3 separate regions of the Homo sapiens genome follow, and regions 2 and 3 are each reported to be linked to region 1. The links are microRNA targets in miRTarBase. Many come from high-throughput screens and were not tested one by one. Region 1 holds a microRNA gene; each other region holds the end of a gene's coding sequence.
Evidence for each region. Region 1 holds the annotated microRNA hsa-miR-376c-5p (GGUGGAUAUUCCUUCUAUGUU, at 3,102-3,122, opposite strand). A microRNA usually pairs through its seed, bases 2 to 8, with sites in the 3' UTR of a target mRNA and lowers its output. Matches are read on the target gene's strand: a 7mer-m8 pairs with bases 2 to 8, a 7mer-A1 pairs with bases 2 to 7 and ends in A, and an 8mer does both.

Region 2: the mRNA of FCAMR is a reported target of hsa-miR-376c-5p. Seed matches in the 3' UTR shown: 7mer-m8 at 5,594-5,600.
Region 3: the mRNA of CRYZ is a reported target of hsa-miR-376c-5p. The part of its 3' UTR that is shown has no 7-base or 8-base seed match.

Annotation. Positions count from the first base shown.
Region 1 is chr14:101,036,671-101,042,815 of GRCh38, reverse strand. It overlaps MIR376C (microRNA 376c), which reads right to left and starts at 3,126; the gene lies at 3,061-3,126. MIR376A2 (microRNA 376a-2) reads right to left here and starts at 2,747; the gene lies at 2,668-2,747. It overlaps MIR654 (microRNA 654), which reads right to left and starts at 2,597; the gene lies at 2,517-2,597. It overlaps MIR376B (microRNA 376b), which reads right to left and starts at 2,380; the gene lies at 2,281-2,380. It also overlaps MIR376A1 and MIR300.
Region 2 is chr1:206,952,739-206,958,810 of GRCh38, forward strand. FCAMR (Fc alpha and mu receptor) reads right to left here. Exons shown (of 8, transcript NM_001170631.2): 8 at 5,229-5,938. The coding sequence ends at 5,778. Among named protein-coding and RNA genes, the nearest start is that of PIGR, 9.3 kb to the left of the region's middle.
Region 3 is chr1:74,700,864-74,706,788 of GRCh38, reverse strand. CRYZ (crystallin zeta) reads left to right here. Exons shown (of 9, transcript NM_001889.4): 9 at 332-1,303. The coding sequence ends at 493. Among named protein-coding and RNA genes, the nearest start is that of CRYZ, 29 kb to the left of the region's middle.

The sequences.
Region 1 (6,145 bases):
CTCTTCACGACAGGATTGGTTACCAAAAGACAGGCAATCCTGTACCATTTGAAATAATGTAAATGTAAAATGGCTGAAATCCCTTTAGGGCCTGCAAAAACACCCTGGGAGAAGAACCTCTGCCTCTGCCCAAAGCCACTGCCTCCAGGAAGCCCTCCTGGTGAACACTGGCTAAGGGAGGTTAGAAGATGCAGTCACATGCATCATTAAAGAAAAAAGAGAAACAGAAATCCAACGCACTCCGTTTGCAAATCACAAAGCAGCACTATGACAAGTGTCCCTTCTCCTGAATTTGGCATTGTATTCAGAAAGCCATCTGAGCAGTTAGTTGTTACTCAGAAGTATTCATCTAGGGCAAGATTCGTCAAAGGAAAATGAGATTCTCATGGGCCAACTCTCTCTGAATAAACACATGCTAACACCAGGAATCCAAGGGTCTTTCCATTGGCAAGAATCCCTAAAGGACACCAATGGACTAAGAGAGCAGTGGGGCTTAGAGGTCCCAGCAGCAAGTCCTGTAGCCACACTGGGTGCTCTGGGGCCTCCTTCCTGTGGACTGGCCTTCCCTCAAGTGGACAGTGAGGTCCAAAAGTCACTCCAAGGATGGGCTAGGTATGGAGAGTGGGTAGACCAGATGACCCACATCTACATTAGACATTGACTTTGCTGACGGTCATTCTTTCATGTATCTGGGAGATGCACTGACCACGAGACCTCTTCTCAGAGGCTGGCATCATGCTGGGCAGACCTGCCGGAGTAGCAGCCCATGGATGCTTTGTGATAAGTAGGGCCCATCAAGGGAGGCCCTTTGTTCTTTTCTTTTTTTTTTAACCTATTGTGTTGAGACAGGGGTCTCTGTCAGCCAGGCTGAAGTGCAGTGGCACAATCTTGGCTCACTACAACCTCCCAACTCCCGGGCTCAAGTGATCCTCCAGCCTCAACCTCCTAAGTACTGGGACCACAGGCGCACACCATGACACCCAGCTAATTTTTGTATTTTTTGCAGAGATGGGGTTTCGCCAAGTTGCCCACGCTAGTTTCGAACTCCTGGGCTTAAGCCATCCACCGTCTCAGCCTCCCAAAGGGCTGGGGTTACAAGCGTGAGCCACCGTGCCCGGCCAAGGTAGGCCCTTTTTGCTAGGCAGAACAGGTGGTCTGAAGAGAAAACCCTATATCATCTCCAAAGCCAGCATCTCTTCCAGAAAGTTCTTGGAAGGAAGCATGAGATGAGGAGGGTCAGAGAACCAGGTCACAAACAGCAAGACAGAGGCACATGCCCTGTGGTCAACCATCCACACCCCAGGGCTATCCTGGCCATCTAACAGGTTGCTGGAGTCAGCCTTGTTCCCAAGAAGGCTTCCCAGGCAGGATTTGCTCCCCAGAGAGAGTCTGCCCTTGTATAATCATTGCAAGTAAAGCAAATGCGTGAAGGATTACCTCTCTTCAAGTAGCAAATGATGGCAGTGACAGGAAGGCCATTTCCTCTGTGACTAAGTTGCCACCAGCTCCAGGAGCAAGCCTTAGAGACACAGATGGGATCTGCATGGTGAGAGCAGCACACCGAGGTGTGAAGTGCAGGCCCGTGGGTGAATCACACATCTATTCCTTCCATAGCCCCTGAAGCAGTGCCCCTTCCTGAAATTGACAGCCCACTCAGGTATTCTCTAAGGTACAACTAGTCACAGTAAAAGAGGTTCATTCCAGAAAATGCATTGCAATCATGGTAAACATACAGAGAACAAACTTCATTCAAGGTCAATGAGGCAATACTGAGAACACAGCCTTGTAACAACACATTATGTGTGCACCAAGGGCAGTGAGCAAACAGCAGAGAAGCTGACGGCGTATTTCATACAAAGTACAATTCTGTGTCTGTCCGTCCTGTACCCAGGAGGGGTACAGATAACATCTCCTCTTCCATGGCGACTTCACGTCCTCCGAGGTTTTCAAAGCAGCATTTGATACTGAAAACGTGGATTTTCCTCTATGATTAATCATAAATAATGTACTCATAGAAGGAGAATCTACCTTTTAAATACCAAAGAAGGATTCCATCCAGGAAAGCGTGCACCTGTGCTTGAGTCATCAGAAAAGAAAGTCACATGAGGCAGACGAGCTTCCAGGGAAGAACTGGCACCACGAGACCCACAATTTAATCTTCACCAAGTTGGCGTCTCGAGATGGTTCTCGGGCATACCCCGTTCATTCAGATACGACGTGCGGCCTACCATCTTTGCACCTACTCAGGCCCTACGGTCTCTTCCAGAAACATTTCCAAAGCAGCATTTGATACTGAAAACATGGATTTTCCTCTATGATTAACCAGGAATCACGTAAACATAGAAGGAATATCCACGTTTTAAATACCAAAGAAGGACTGGGCTCTGGAAAGGACAAATCTGAACACAGTTCATGGAAAATGGAAGCAAGACAGTAAAGCAACCGTTTTCAGTCCCGTAGCATAGCTGTGACAACACACCACAGCCTGTGCACCAAGCTGGCTCCTCAGCGAAAGGGGGCTTCTAAAGGTGATGGTCAGCAGACATATGGCACGAACTCAGCACATGTTCTGCGGCCCACCATCTTTCCACTTACCCTGGAGGGCTCAGCCCCACCTCACGTCCCTGATGGTGGCTTCAGTCCAGCCATGATCCCAAGGCAGCATTTGATACTGAAAACGTGGATTTTCCTCTATGATTAACCATCAAACACGTAACCATAGAAGGAAAATCTACCTTTTAAATACCAAAGAAGGTTTCATCCCGGAAAGCACGAACCTAAGTACAATCCATCAAACACAAAAGTAACATAGCACAGAGGAGAGCATTCGGCCTCATGGAGAAAATGACGACGGAGCCCAGCCGCTTGGCCGAGCGGGCAGCTTGCGAGAGGGGTCTCCTCAAGGCGGGTGGGTGGTCCGCAGACATATGGCACGAATTCAGCACATGTTCTGAGGTCCACCGACTTTCCACTTACCCTGGAGTGGGGGGGGGGACTTTATTGTCTCTTCCCTGATGGTGGTTTCAGTCCAGGAATGTTTCCAAGCAGCATTTGATACTGAAAACGTGGAATTTCCTCTATGTTTAACCATAAATAACATAAACATAGAAGGAATATCCACCTTTTAAATACCAAAGAAGGATTGAGTCCTGGAAAGCATGAACCTAAGCACAATCTATCAAAATTAAAGACAGCACAGGATAGGTGCAGTCGGCAGGGGCCTCCCGGGCTAGCGGCAGTGACATGGGCCCTGCGGAGGACGCATGTCCCAGGACAGACCTTGCTAACAAGAGCTTAGGTTCTGGGATTCACCTTCCATCACTCTCCGCATGGGGGAGGGAGCTAACCTTCCTCTCAGAAATGTTCAGAAATGTTTTAAAAGCAGCCTTAGATACTGAAAATGCGGATTTTCCTCTATGATTCACCATAAATCCTGTAAGCATAGAAGGAACATCCACCTTTTAGATGGGAAAAGTGGGAACAGCCCTGGAGAGCACAAACGCAAACATGATTCATGAAAGACAGAAGGTAACAGAAGCAGGTGAGCACTTTGCGAGTCCCACGTGGGAAGCGCAGGGCCCACCCCTGGCCTCTTCACATCCAGAGATGGAACTCCTATGCAGGCAAACGTAAGTTTGGGGTCTGCCCTGCTGTCACTCGTCTGGGTGGGGGTAACCCTAATGTCTCTTCCCTAATGGAGGCTTCATGGTCAAGAGCGTTTCCAAAGTAGCATTTAATTCTGAAAAAAAAAAAAAAAAAAAGTGAATGTACATCAAAAATTTGCCACAAGTAAAGCAGGCAAAGTAGGGATTCTATGCTTTGAATTCGAAAAATATCAAAAACAAAAAGAAAATAAGCCTGTCAGGTTCCTAAAGTCACATCGCCTCCATGAAGCCCTCCCAAGGCACCTAATGACCAATGTCATGTAACTGTGGGCTGGAGCATCCTTCACATACCTTGGAGGGAGAAGGACACCCAAGAATCTTCCAGAGACTGAAGCTTGTGTCCAGAAAGTTTCAATCGGCAGGACTGGTCATGTTGGTGTGACAGACTGAGGAATAGGCAAACAGGTCAAAAACAATGTCTCTTTAAATACAACTGAGAGAGGTAGCAAAACATGATGCTCACCAGCCCCTACCACCACCACCCTCCACCACCACCACCACCACCACCACCAACACCACCAACACCACCACCACCAACACCACCACCACCACCACCACCAGTACCACCACCACCACCACCACCACCACCAACACCACCACCACCAACACCACCACCACCATCAGTACCACCACCACCACCACCACCACCAATACCACCAATACCACCACCACCACCACCATCACAACCACCACCACCAACACCACCACCACCAACACCACCACCACCAACACCACCAGTACCACCACCATCACAACCACCACCACCAACACCACCAACACCACCACCACCAACACCACCACCACCACCACCATCAGTACCACCACCACCACCACCACCACCACCACCACCACCACCACCACCATCAGTACCACCACCACCACCACCACCACCAATACCACCATCACCACCATCACCACCACCACCATCACCACCACCACCACCACCACCACCACCACCACTAATACCACCCTCCAAAAACAATGATCACAGCTTCCAGAAAAATCATTTTTGGGGTGGAGTGGATGCAGAGGCTTACTAAAATAGCGACAACACATGCCTCCCATAGCAAAAAATGAAGGACCAATAATCCCAGACTCAAACCCTATCTCGCAAGGGTGCCATCACTCCAGGAAGTGCCGCTAAAACGGCTTCAGTTCTGAGGACCAGGAGACATTTTCCACAAGCAAAGCGTATGCTCCATGTCCCACCCTCCATTCACATTCCACACACGGACAACCTACACCAATCTCACTTCTCTAAAGCTGGAACTGGTTCAAAAAAGTCTTGTACTTGAAAACCACTACTTCTCACACATGCAGAGTTAGACATTCCTCCTACTGGCGAATGGATCAGTGAGTGGACCAGATAACACCCATTGTCTGCTATTAGCCAGTCCCTCCCCTGCAGTCACAGCTTGTTGAGGAAGCAAGTCTGATCCCCCGAAGCCCCCAAGCACGATTTGGCATAAATAAAGCACGTCTACATGGACAAGCATTCTGCACATACCAGCCAGAGCAAGGCCACTTCCCCCAGGTCGGGGCTGCCTCCACGAGGCCCTGTTGAGAACCAGTGGGACATAGCTGGTTAGGGAATTGGACGGTCTGAGTCATAAACATGTATTCTGTGTGGCCAGACATCATTCGTGTCCCAAGGAGTGGGTCTTGCCAGGATGGTCCTGAAGGAGGGGGACATGTGATTGAGGAATAGCTGCTGGCTGGGCTTAGGGGTCTTCTTTTGGTAACTGAAACAGCGGCAGCCTGGAAGAGCTGGGGTAGGTGTAGTAACCAGCCAAGGAACTCTTCTTCCCCTGTGTTGGGAGAAAGGTCAGCCCACACACTGTCTCTTCCAAGGGGCTGGCATCCCTCCCTGAGGGGCCTGGCTAGGGTACCCAGGCTAGTGAACTGACACATCCGTGTCTGCCCCGGGCCCTCAGCTCTAGGTGCAGCTGACTCCCCAGGCCCTGCTGTGGGATGTGGCTGCAGCAGCCCTGCTCAGGACTTGTCCTTAATTGCATATGCCCCTAATTGGTTTCTTCCGCTTTTTTCACCTGCCCCCTCCCCACTTCCTCCTGGAATGGGCTTCCCTGATGGTACTTCCTCTGTGATTAACCATAAATCCTGTAAGCATAGAAGGAACATCCACCTTTTAGATGCAAAAAGTTGCTGGCCAGATGCAGTGGCTCACGCCTGTAATCCCAGCACTTTGGGAAGCCGAGGTGGACGGATCACCTGAGGTCAGGAGTTCGAAACCAGCCTGGCCAACATGGCAAAACCCCATCTCTACTAAAAATACAAAAATTAGCCAGGCACGGTGGTGGGTGCCTGCAATCCCAGCACTTTCGGAGGCTGAGGCGGGCAGATCACAAGGTCAGGAGAGCAAGACCATCCTGGCTAACACAGTGAAACCCCATCTCTACTAAAAATACAAAAAATTAGCCGGGTGTGGTGGCGGGCACCTGTAGTCCCACCTACTCAGGAGG
Region 2 (6,072 bases), not on the chromosome of region 1:
TTCAGGAGGCCAAGTGAGGCGATCACTTGAGGCCAGGAGTTCGAGACCAGCCTGGCCAACATTGTGAAAAATACTCTACTAAAAATACAAAAGTTAACCGCGCATGCTGGCGTGCTCCTGTAATCCCAGCTACTCAGGTGGCTGAGGTAGGAGGACTGCTTGAACCCTGGAGGTGGAGGTTACAGTGAGCCAAGATTGTGCCACTGCACTCCAGCCTGGACGAGGGAGCGAGAGTCTGTCTCAAAAATAAATAAATAAAAAAAATATTTAAAAAAAAAAAAAGAAAGAAAAAGGCCCTGGAAATGGAAAGTCAGCCATGGTCCAAAAGCTCTCTCAATTCTTCTTTGGGTCTAGTCTCTACACTCCAAAGAGCTTTGATTCTCTGTTTCTGAGAGGCAGGGACATATGAGCAAACCTTTTTTGAGGTTACCCAACCATTGTCCTATGTGCTGTTACCTCCACACCCTGGCTAGGGAGAAGCGGAAGGAGGAAGATTTTTGGAGTAGACATCCAAAGTCAATAGGTGGAGTGTCAGGTGACTGGGCCCAGCCCCTCTCATAAGCCACTGGGGTCCTGCTGAAGACTTGCTGTTTCCTTGTTCCTGGTCTGAGCCTGGCTCTCGGCCCAAGGCTTGCCTGACAGGCAGCGATTGGAAAAATAGCCCCTGTAATCCCCTGCAGCCTGTGTTCATCTGAGCCTCAATGTTCCCATCTCTAGAATGGGAGTATGTTTCTTTTTGGTGATGTATATTGTAATTAATTTGTAGTTGTCTGTACTCCACTGGCAGAGGTAGGGAAGGAAAGTGCTGGCCCCATAAAATGTTTAGATTAGTTGCATTTGCTAATCAGTCTGATCTTCCCATGCCAGGCCCTAAAGAAGCCACAGTCTGAATTCTTTTTCTTGAACTCTTGTCTGAAATGAAACACAGTATCTTCAGACAAATTAGAGCATTCTGAAAACACCTTTGGACACAGTAGTCCTAGCTTTCTTCCTCTTCTCTAAAGTACTCAAGGTTAGGAAGCCAGAAGTTTGCCACTCAGGGAAAGAAGTAGCCTTTGTTTGACCCTCTATGCTCACAGCAGAACTGGTAGATCTGGATAGAGGTAGCAAGTAAGTGAGCAGTGGGAACAAGGCCAGAGGTGGCAGAGGCAGAACATAGAAGAGTTCAGATCCTACTCAGTAAATGTGTGTCTTTTTGTTGTTGTTGTTTGTAGAGATGAGGTCTCACTATGTTGCCCAGGCTGGTCTCAAGCGCCTGGCATCAAGTGATCCTCCTGCCTCACGCTCCCACAGTGCTGGGTTTACAGGCATGAGCCACGGTGCCTGGCTTCAATCAATGTCTTTGATGCAATGCATCCAGGAGGCAAACAGTGGTCTGCAGGCCAGGGGCATTGGCACTGGTGATCACCACATGCCTGTAGAGGTGCAGCATGGGGTTCTCTCCTAAGGCTGCCGCTTCTCTGCTGCCCACATGGGTTTCAGCTGGCCCCTTAGAGAGTAGGCAGTAGGATGACAGCTCATCATACTGCTGACAGTGAAGGGAGCAGGCTGGCCCGGGAAGGCCAGCACCTGTAAACCAAGCTGTGTCACTGTATGAAAAATGAAGAGCTTGGTGGTGCTGGACCCTGAATGCAGGGTTTGTTTCTTTCTGAGTAGAATCTCCATTCTCCATTCCACATTAGTCATGCTTTCAGCTCTGGGATATCTGTACCAGGTGAGCACAATCAAATAACCTGTGTCTACTTGGCTGCAGTGCGTTATGGGTCTCTCTGTGGAGGTATCTTCCCCTAGGGCCTGACTGAGGCTGTTATTAAACTGATTTTTTATGTCTCAGACCACAGTGGGCTATTGGAGGAGAGGAAGAAACCTCCAACGTATTAGCAGAGAGCTCTCAAAAGTTGGCTTAGAGTCATGCATTTGCCCCGAGTAAGCTGAGACAGATGGACATCCCCACAAATAAAGATCTGAGCTCCTTTTATACATATGTCAGCAAGGACCTCAGGGCTGGTGCCTGAATTTTTAGCTCTAGTTCCGGCTCTCTGAACTTTTTTTTTTAATGCCTCATTAGGCCAGGGTTGTAATAAACTAGTTAGGTGACTAAAGAGAACCAATTCCTGGAAATGATTATGAAACCTTCCATGCACGAGCCTAAGAAAAAGAGAGAGAGAAAGACAGAGAGAGGGAGAGAGAGAGAGAGAGAGAGAGAAAGAAAGAAAGAAGCAAACCTTTAGAGCTTTACACAGGAAGGGACCTGACCAGATACTCAGACTATACATCCAAGCAAGGGGGAAGGCAGGGGACACAAAGATCGAGAATGCAGCTGTGGAGGTGAGGTGCTTTGCATGAAGTCCCAGTGTGCCCTTTCCTGAGTAGTGTAACTTAACTTCTCTGGTCCTCAGATTTCCCATCTATGAAATGGGAATGATCACACCTACCTTACAGAAATGTTACCGTAACTGTGATACACAATGTGAAAACACCTAGGATAGTGCCTGCTGTGCAGAAACACGTTAACAAGCAGTAGCAGCGTTAGTAAGTAACAGTGTAAAGTGAACTGCAGAAATGCACCCGAACCTGAGAATCTGCTTGATCTTGTGAAAATCAATGGTCTCCCTGCATCCTCGATTAGATTCTAATCCTAAGTTAGAAATCCCCAGGGAGGCTTCCCTGATTCTGGCCTAGGGATAGATGTTTGCCTGCCCCTCATCTCAGTGGTATAGGCATCATGCTAGCCGGAGGTATAAGATGAAAAACAACAGCACTGACAATACCAAGTGGTGGAGGTGGCCTCCTCTGCCAGTTTGGCCTCTGGCCCTTTAAATCAACCCTCCTGACTACTCCATGGATCAGTTAGCCCATAAAGGAGAGCTGTGAACACTTGGGGCTTCCCCGCTTCTCTCCCTGAAAGTTCTTACTCAGATCTTATCTCTGCCCCCTCCAAACTCTTGGCCCTGGGACTCTAATCTGGCCCTGCCCTGGCCTTTTGAACTCTTACCAGCTCCACCTCTGGTGGAGCTTAACTTTCCCTATAACGGCCTCCCTGCTAGAAACGCTCCTGGCTCTAGCCACGTGGCCAACACTCTTGCTGGGCTGGTTGTCTCCTCCCTCCCCTTCTTCCCCCAAGATGGGGTAGTCAGACAGAACATTCTAGCTGCTGAATTCCACAATGAAAGTATTAGAGCCGTTTGGAGGAAGGAGAGGTCCTGGAGAAAGGTGGTCAGGGAAGCCCTTGAGGAAGAATAGGATCTGATCTCCAGATCCGAGTGGGAACAAAAGAGTCCTGTACAATTTCATGGCTTAGTCCAGGGACTGGCAGATTCTGGCTCAAGGGCCAAATCCAGCCTCCCTCCTGTTTTGGGAAATAAAGTTTTGTTGGAACACAGCTGCGGTCATTTGTTTCTCGATTGCCTGGCTGCTTTTGTGCTGCAACGGCAGAACTGAGTAGTTGCCATAGAGACTGTATGGCCTGCAAAGCCTAAAATGTTTACCATGTGGCCCTTTACTGAAGAGTTGGCCAACCCCGGGTTTAGTGCATCAGGCTTCCCCAAACAGTGATGTGAGGAACTCCAGCCCCTTGGGACTGCTTCAATCAAACACAATAATCCAACACATCTGGGAAACACACATTATGTCCCCATCCCGAGGTGTGAAAACCCAGGGTGTTTCACAATACACCTCCATATAGCAAAGGCTCCAAAAGATCCTGCATAGAAGAATGTTTGTGGTTTCCCAGCATTTCCAAAACTTCATTAATCTACCAAACCTCCTTTTCCTCAGAACACCTTTTCACATCCTGAGAATCTAGCATTAGAAACAGTCTGGGTGCTGGGCCCATCCCTGCCACAAATGAGAACCAATTCCTGGGAATGATCATGAAACCTTCCATGCACAAGCCTAAGAGAGAGAGAGAGAAAGAAGTGAGCCTTTAGAGCTTTACACAGGAAAGGACCTGACCAGATACCTAGATCATAAATCCAAGCAAGGGGCACGGCGATCCAGAACATAGCTGTGGAGGTGGGCTGCTCCGAGTGGCCTTTGCTGAAGTACACACCTTGCAGAGCCTGCTCCCTCATTGGTTGAATAGGATCCATGATGTCTGTCCTATCTCCGTTACAGGATTATTTGGGGCAGGTCATTGAGAAAGCGAACAGGAAAATAGTCTCGAGGGACGACTGTGGTATCCTTGATTTTTGACAGTGAGTTTTGCTTTGGTACAATGCTCAGCAATGGTGAAGTGAAAAAGGCCCTGAACCAAGGTCACGAGTTCTCTTTGCTAGTCCTCACAGTGCTATAACTAACTGGGTTAACTGGGTGACTTTAAACAAGCGCCCCCCACCTGTACCCTTAACCCTGTTGGGCCTCAAGTCCCTCTCTTCTAGAATGAGGATATTAGACTAATCTCTAAAGATCTGTTAGCTCTGAAATTCTGCGATTCCATGTGGTTAGATGTGTGCAATTTTCCTACTTATCCAAAACAACAGGTTTCTCTTATAAGCCATAAAACCGGCATCTCCTTGATTTTCTTTGTACAGTGTCTGTGTTCAGAACCAGATATAAGGGGGTATTACTGAAGGATTTCTGTGCTGCTGACAGCTTAGAAGGCAGGACTAAGCCTTCTGGAAATGTCTACCTGGCAATTCTCAACTCGATATTGGTGCCTATTTTTCCTTTCTGCCTCCACCGCTCAGGCTGTTCCATCCAACAATGGAGCCCAGACAGTTTGCCAGCGGATCTGGCAAAAGAAAATAGTGGATGTGATTCCTGGAAAGGCAGTGGGGCCTAGGGTGGAGCGAAAGTTCCCTGACAAGCATGAGGTGATGTAGTTACAGGGCAGAATCCACATAAAATTCCTCTCTTTTGTCTCCCACCTCACCCCCAAAAACCATTTTCCAGCTTCACCAACAGTCCTCCATATCGAGGATTTATAAGCAGCTGAACAAGAGGGCCTTTATGAAGAAAGCAAGAATCTACTGAAAATACCCTGCTCCTCCATGAATGTAGGAAAATCCCAGAAAATCTTGGCCGGGTCAAAAGGTCTACGGCACAATAAGCCTGGGTCCAAATGGGGCGGGATGATGTGAGGAATGGGTGTTTGCCCTTTTGATCTCAGCGGAGAAACCAGCTGCCTGTGGGGTCATCTAGGGGACTCCCAAAAGGAGGGGCAGAAGCCCAGGGGGACCCAGAGTTCTTGCAGAGGAAGGGTGCCTAGAGGCCACTGAGCCCCCAAGTCAATCAGACACAGGTATTTATTGGGGTCCTACTGAGTTGGAAGTTCTCTGGGGGCATCATGAGACAGATAAAATGCAATTACTGCCTTAAAGGAGCTTAGAATCTACTTGAGAAGGCAAGGCTGGTACACTTAAATATAATACATGTGAATGGGAGGCTGAGTGCTAACAGTAGTCAGAAAAGGAGCCCCCAGCAAGGGCTGGGAGTGTTGATAGGGGATTTGTCACTTTCCACACTGATTGGAAGCCTCTTCTATTTTCAAACATTCAGGAATGGAAATTTCATGCTTTTCCTAGGTGACCTCTTCCAGTGTTTCATACACTGTTCTTGAAGTCTCCTTTGAGTCATCTTGTCACCTTTGGACGTGGATAATGCTTGACTTTCTTGGGCCCAAGGACAGCCAGCCTTTCTTCCATGGGTGGAGCACCGGCTGCATCAGCTTCTCTTCCCACAGGTGGAGGAAGGATGATGGAAAGAGGCTGGGGTCCTGAAGGCCTTTGATCTTGGTCCTTCTCCCATGGTAACTGAGCAGTTCATCTCTCTGTCCCTCAGGGTCCTGGATTTCTCTCTGGGGCAGTCAGGCTGGCCCCAGCAGGAAGAGAGTCATCCTGGAGCATCTTTCTTTCCACATGGGGCAGCTGGTCTGCTTGGGGGTTCACTTCCAGAAAATGTGTCATCTGAATTAAGGTGACCCTTTCTGCCTCCTGAGCTGCAGAGACACAGAGCAGACTGTGAGGGTTCTGGGTAAGGACAGCACTGACTTTGATTTCCTAAGAACCACTCCCAACCACTGCAAGTTTTCAAGAACTTTCTGACACAGAAGCAATGGAGCCCTAGTTGGCT
Region 3 (5,925 bases), not on the chromosome of region 1:
GAGTTGGTAAGGATTAGTCACCAGAAGGACAACTAGGGTGACAGTATAATTTATATCCAGGTAAGCATACCTTTTGAGATAGAAATGTGATACTAGTAATAATTTCAGGACAACAGGTATTTTGTACACTAACACTGTCTCAGGCAGATGGGATTTATGGTTACCCTGTAGATAACTACTTTTTCTATAGTTCTGGACAAGTTGACAAAAGTCACACATTTGTAAGAGACTCTTCATGGTATAACACTTAGATTCTGAAGTGTTTTTAATGCTTCTGAAAATTAAATCATACGGTTCACTACAAAAAGAAATTTGTTTTTCCTTTTCTTAGGAGGAATTTCAGCAATATGCAGCAGCCCTTCAAGCTGGAATGGAAATTGGCTGGTTGAAACCTGTGATAGGTTCTCAATATCCATTGGAGAAGGTGGCCGAGGCTCATGAAAATATCATTCATGGTAGTGGGGCTACTGGAAAAATGATTCTTCTCTTATGATGATTAATTCTTTCATGGATTTCCTATGTAATTAGAGGTACTGTCTTTCCCCCAGTTGTACTTACCCTATCTTTTCTTTAATTAACATTCGATTCCATGAGCTTCTTATGTGAAAAAATAAGATTTTTCTTTAGAGAGCAGAAGCAGAAGAGTAAAATTTATTGTATAGCTAGCAATATTTTTTTATGCCATCTGTCTCAAATCAAAGAGTCATCATAGTAGGAAATAACATGTTAGTTGTCATTTGGCATGAGTGTGCATTCCAGTAATTCTTAATTGATATTTGATTAATTCCATACCTTTGATTAAAACATGCTAGTTCAAAATAAGACTGCTCAGTTTCCAAGGGTTTTCAAGCCTACTTACCTTTATAAAGGTTCTCTAGTCTCTGATTAGCCATGACTGTATTGGACTTTGAACATTTTCTGAACTAAAAACCTCTATTCTAAACTAATCTCATTTGGATGTGTAAGTCTTTTGTAAAGGCAAGAATAAATAATATCCAGGACAATTTATTAGTTTTCTCAGTATTTTCCCAAATATTAGAATATTTACTTCATTATTGGTTGGCTGCCAATGACCCCATATGTTCTGTGAGAATAGTAGCTTTATCTTTGATATAATACATAGTCTCCAAATAGGTAATACTTCGCAATTGATTAGATTTTCAGAGTAGATTTAGAGTTATCTGTTTTTCTGGTGAGGGTCAAATATTTTTGTTAATTAAGCTCACAAATTTGATAAATTAAGAATTATCTGCATTTGTCTCGTAACATAATAATGTGTAATAAAGTCTATAGAAAATTAAAACCTGCTTTTCTAGTTTTTATATTATTTGCCTCTCATCACTTCTGCATAGCTCCTGACAGTTACTTCTTAACAGTGTTCTATGCTGGAAGCCTTTATCTAAACTAAATACAGGGATGACCTCTTAGCAATCTTGCCATCAATATTATATTCAAGAAAATAAAAGTTCGGTTATTTGTTGTTTTTGTTTTTCTTCACATAAGCACATACTTTTGTCTTGCTACATTATGTGATTGATTGTTTTGACCTGATTTTTTCTGTTGAATGACAATTTCTGGCTTGAATATGGAATCCTGCTTCAGGAATAAACAGAAAACACCGCTAATTTCTATAGTTGAAGGATATCATTGGCTTCTGGTTGTATGTGCCATGGCTGAAGTGTTTTTTGCTATTAGCATTTTCAAGTTTATCCACTGTTTCTTTTACAGGTTAACTACCCTGTAAAATTACTTAAAAAAAAAGTGTTAAGGCAATGTCATCAACATAGGCTGGCATTTTATGTGCATCCTAAAATGGAGGATTCCTTTCCATGTAAACAAGGTAAAAGAATAATTATTCTGTAAAAGTCAGTTTAATCTGTTTGTATATTTGCCTCATCTATAGAAGGAGCTAAAGCATACAGATGACTTAACACTTCAAAATACATTGATACAGTTTAATTAATTTTGAAGCCAAAACTAGCCAAACTGTGTGCATTAACTACCATATTTATGATGTAGCACTGGGTATGTTCTCTGCATAAATCTCTGTGGTTTTAGTCTTGTCCCAACTTTCAGCCAACTGCATTCACTACTTGGTTGGTGCCTGTGGCCTTAGGGCTACTACATAGTCTTCAGTGCCCATTCTTGATGAAAAGTAGAGAATAACCTGTATAATAAACAAACATTGTTTAACTCAGTCTTTTGGATTTCTGTTCCTGGTTGCTTTGACTTGTGTGACCTAGTCATGTAATGTATTAGAGACCAAATTGGTCAGCACCCTGAGCCCAAAAAGGTGAATCAACATACCAAAGGTCACATGACTAGGAGATTCAAATTCAGCTGACTTTTTTGTGGGCTGTCGATATAAAACCATAAATTTAACTTTCCAGGCCTCTGGCTTTCCTTGCTCACTGTACCTCTGGCTTCTCTAACAGATTATTCTGTGCATCCATTAGTTCAACAAGTATTTATTGAGTACCTAGAGTCTGAGAAAGCACCCTGTTGGATTTTGAAAATACAGAGATATATAAGACAGAGTGCATATCCTTGAGCTTACAGTTGAGTAAGGATGAGACCCAAGTAAAACATTTTAGAATATAAGGGAGTGTCATACAGGGTTCTCCAGACAAACAAGCAATAAAATATATTAAGAGATGCATTTGAAAGAATTTGCTCATGCAATTATGGGGACTGGCAAGTTAAAATCTGTAGGGCAGGCCAGCAGGCTAGAAATACAACTAGTTTCTATTGTTGCAGTCTTGCAGAATTCTTTCTCTGTGAAACCTTAGTTTTTGTTCTTAAGGCTTTCAACTGATTGGATGAGGCCCACCTGCATTATTGAGGGACATCTCCTTAAAGTCAACTGATAATTTTGTATAAACATGTAAGTGGCACATGTTGACTATGTTGACACAAAACTAACCATCACAAGGGTGACAGACACAGAGGAAGGGCACTTAGTGTAGCTTGGGATTTGCAGTCACACATTTCATACATTTGATGCATTTGTTAGCTGTCTCCATCCATAGTAGCTTTAACCATAGAGGTAAAAAATAGGATGCTTCTGAAAGGGGGAAAAAAAAAACTAGCATTTTTTTAATGTCCGTAACTCGCCTGTTGAGACAAGAAATTGTATGTGTGCCAAGGGGCTTCCCCAATTTGTGGTATAAAGAGCTTTCTTTTTCTGCACGATTTCCAAGAACAGCAAAACCTGTCAGGTCACTTTGACCTACCTCTTTGCGCCTCCTTGACCGTATCTCGCAAACAGAAAAACACCTCAGCTCAATGCTCAATCATTTCTAATGCTTTCATTTTTTTAGTACAGTGCTTTAAAAAGTCATTTAAAAATTGTCATATGACAATTTTGCTAATCCATAGGGCTTATACTGTGGGAACTTCCTACATCCCAGGACAAGGCCTAGGAAATGTTATAGAAAGAAACGTAAGTTCACTTTGGTCTATGTCGACCCCTAAGTCATACATGGAGACACTCCATGTGTGTCGTTAAAAGTGAGTCTAATACTGATCCCAAAATTATGTGATATGGATGTTCATTAAATGTGCTAAATATAACTACAGATCGCAGTCCCTGATTTATTCATTCCCAACTTCATGTAAAAATACCCACAAAACTCCAGTAGTACAAGACAGTGAAGAGAAAACCATGTGACAAAATCCACTGGGAATTTCTAACATAAGTGTCAATCATTTGATTCGTTGAACCAAATTATCTACAGAGTAGGCAGGAAAAAGCCACAACTCAATCACTGCCTCTAACTTGGGACACAGGAGGTACACTGCCTGGAAAACCAAGTCCCCCGCCGCACACACACACACACACACACACACACACACACACTTTTTTTTTTTTTTTAACCAGAAATCATCTGAACTAGCTAGAATTGAGGTCTAGGTCCACCCCACAGTATCCTTCAGCTCCTTGCTTTCACATGCATTTTAGAGACTACAGGTTTCAGTTTTCAGTACAGCTATAGATTAAGGAGGAAGTGGAACTTTGCACCCTCAGATGTCACCACAGAGAAAATCTTGCAAATGGATTGAGAGTGGAATTGCTGGAGAAATACAAGACTTGTGCAAACAACATTTGTCTGACTCTAGCAAAGCCAGATAATGTAAAAATTGGAGCAGAAGATGCCCGTACCTTAGTCCAGCAGGCACTGGAATTGACGCAAAATATTGAAGAGGCTATCTCACTCCAGATATTGATCTGGAAGAAACTGACCTCTCTTATGGGCAGGGAGGAAGGCCACAAGTACATCTCTGGTATAGTTGTCAAGAGCATGGGTTCTGAAGGCAAAGAAACTGGATTTAAAGCCTAGCACTGTTATTGACAAGCTATGGAATCCTAGGCAAATTAATTATTTGGAGCTTAGGGAGCTCAGAATTGTAAGAATTAAATGAGATAATGGTTGTGTAGTACTTAGCACTCTGTCTTGCACAAACACGTGTTTAAATGATTAATAATCTTTTATTTTCATTAGCCAAAAAAGAGTAAATTGAGACAGAGGAGGAATGAAGAGAGAGCATCCTGAAATATGCAAAAAGGAATCCCAAATGCAAATCCCCAGAGGAGGTGCAAATGAGCATGACTGACATTACAGAAAACTTGGTCACGTGAACAAATTTCATAACTCTCCAAAAGTATAGAGAAAAAGATGAAGAAAATAATATGATAGAACAAACAAAAAGCAAAAACAACCTTTAAATTATAGGCATGCCCCCTAACTTTCACAGAATAATGAAAGAAGTAATAATTAAAGAAAATTCCTGGCCTAAACCAAAGAGCTAAGTTTATTCACTGATAATATTAATTATGTCTGTGTAAAATTAATGAAGACCTGGTAATAAGATACATCTTTTAAATGTTTAAATTTCACATAGATTTGGAAGGGAGCATGCTGAAGGATCATTATTTACAATTATGTTATTCAAAACCTAGAATATGCAGGAGAACAAACAGAAAAACTATTGATGAGTTAAGAAAACTGGTTAATTATATAATATATAGAAATTAATATGAATCAGTAATGATTCATATTAGAAAATTATAAAATAATGAAAAAAGATCTCTTTCACAATTGCAATGCCACTACTACCACTAATTTTAAAAGCGGTGAGAAATAACTTATGTGTGTAATTGGATTGTTTGTAATTCAAGGATAAATGCTTGAGGGGATGGATACCCCATTCTCCATGATGTGCTTATTTCACATTGCATGCCTGTATCGAGACATCTCATGTACCCCATAAATACGTACATCTGCTATGTGCCCACAAAAATTTTTAAGAAAAAACAATTTTTAAGTAGTAAAATACAAGCTACCAAATTTACAAGAACACACAGGACCTTTAAAAAGAAAACTACAAAACTCTCATGGAGGACATAAAGGATTACTCAAAGAAATGATTCTTGGTCAGATTCATGTAAAGATTCTCCCTTCATATGCTAGAAATTCAAAGTTATTTATGTCAAAATAATAGGAATTTTTAGAAACTTGACAACATATTTCTAAAGGTGTTTGTTTTTTTTGGTGGGGGAGGGGGAGGGAGGGGGAGAAAAAGGAAGCCAGAAAAATTAAGAAAAGAAAATGAGCTGGAACCAGTCCCAGCAGATGTGAACATTTTTTCCCAAGTTAGAGTTACTAAGGTGGACTCGTATTAGCTCAATGATAACTAGATTAGTGGAACAAATCTAGTTGAGTCCAGGTATGCTGCTTCCCTTTGCGGATGGTAAAAATGGCTTTTGAGTGGGGTGAGAGGTTATTCAATAAGAGAACTGGCTCCCCATTTGGGAAAAAAAATAAAGCTAATATTTGACTTCACTTCTAACATCAAAAACTTTTAGATGAGCCGGGTGCAAGTGGCTCACATCTGTAATTGCAGCACTTTGTGAGACTGAGGCGG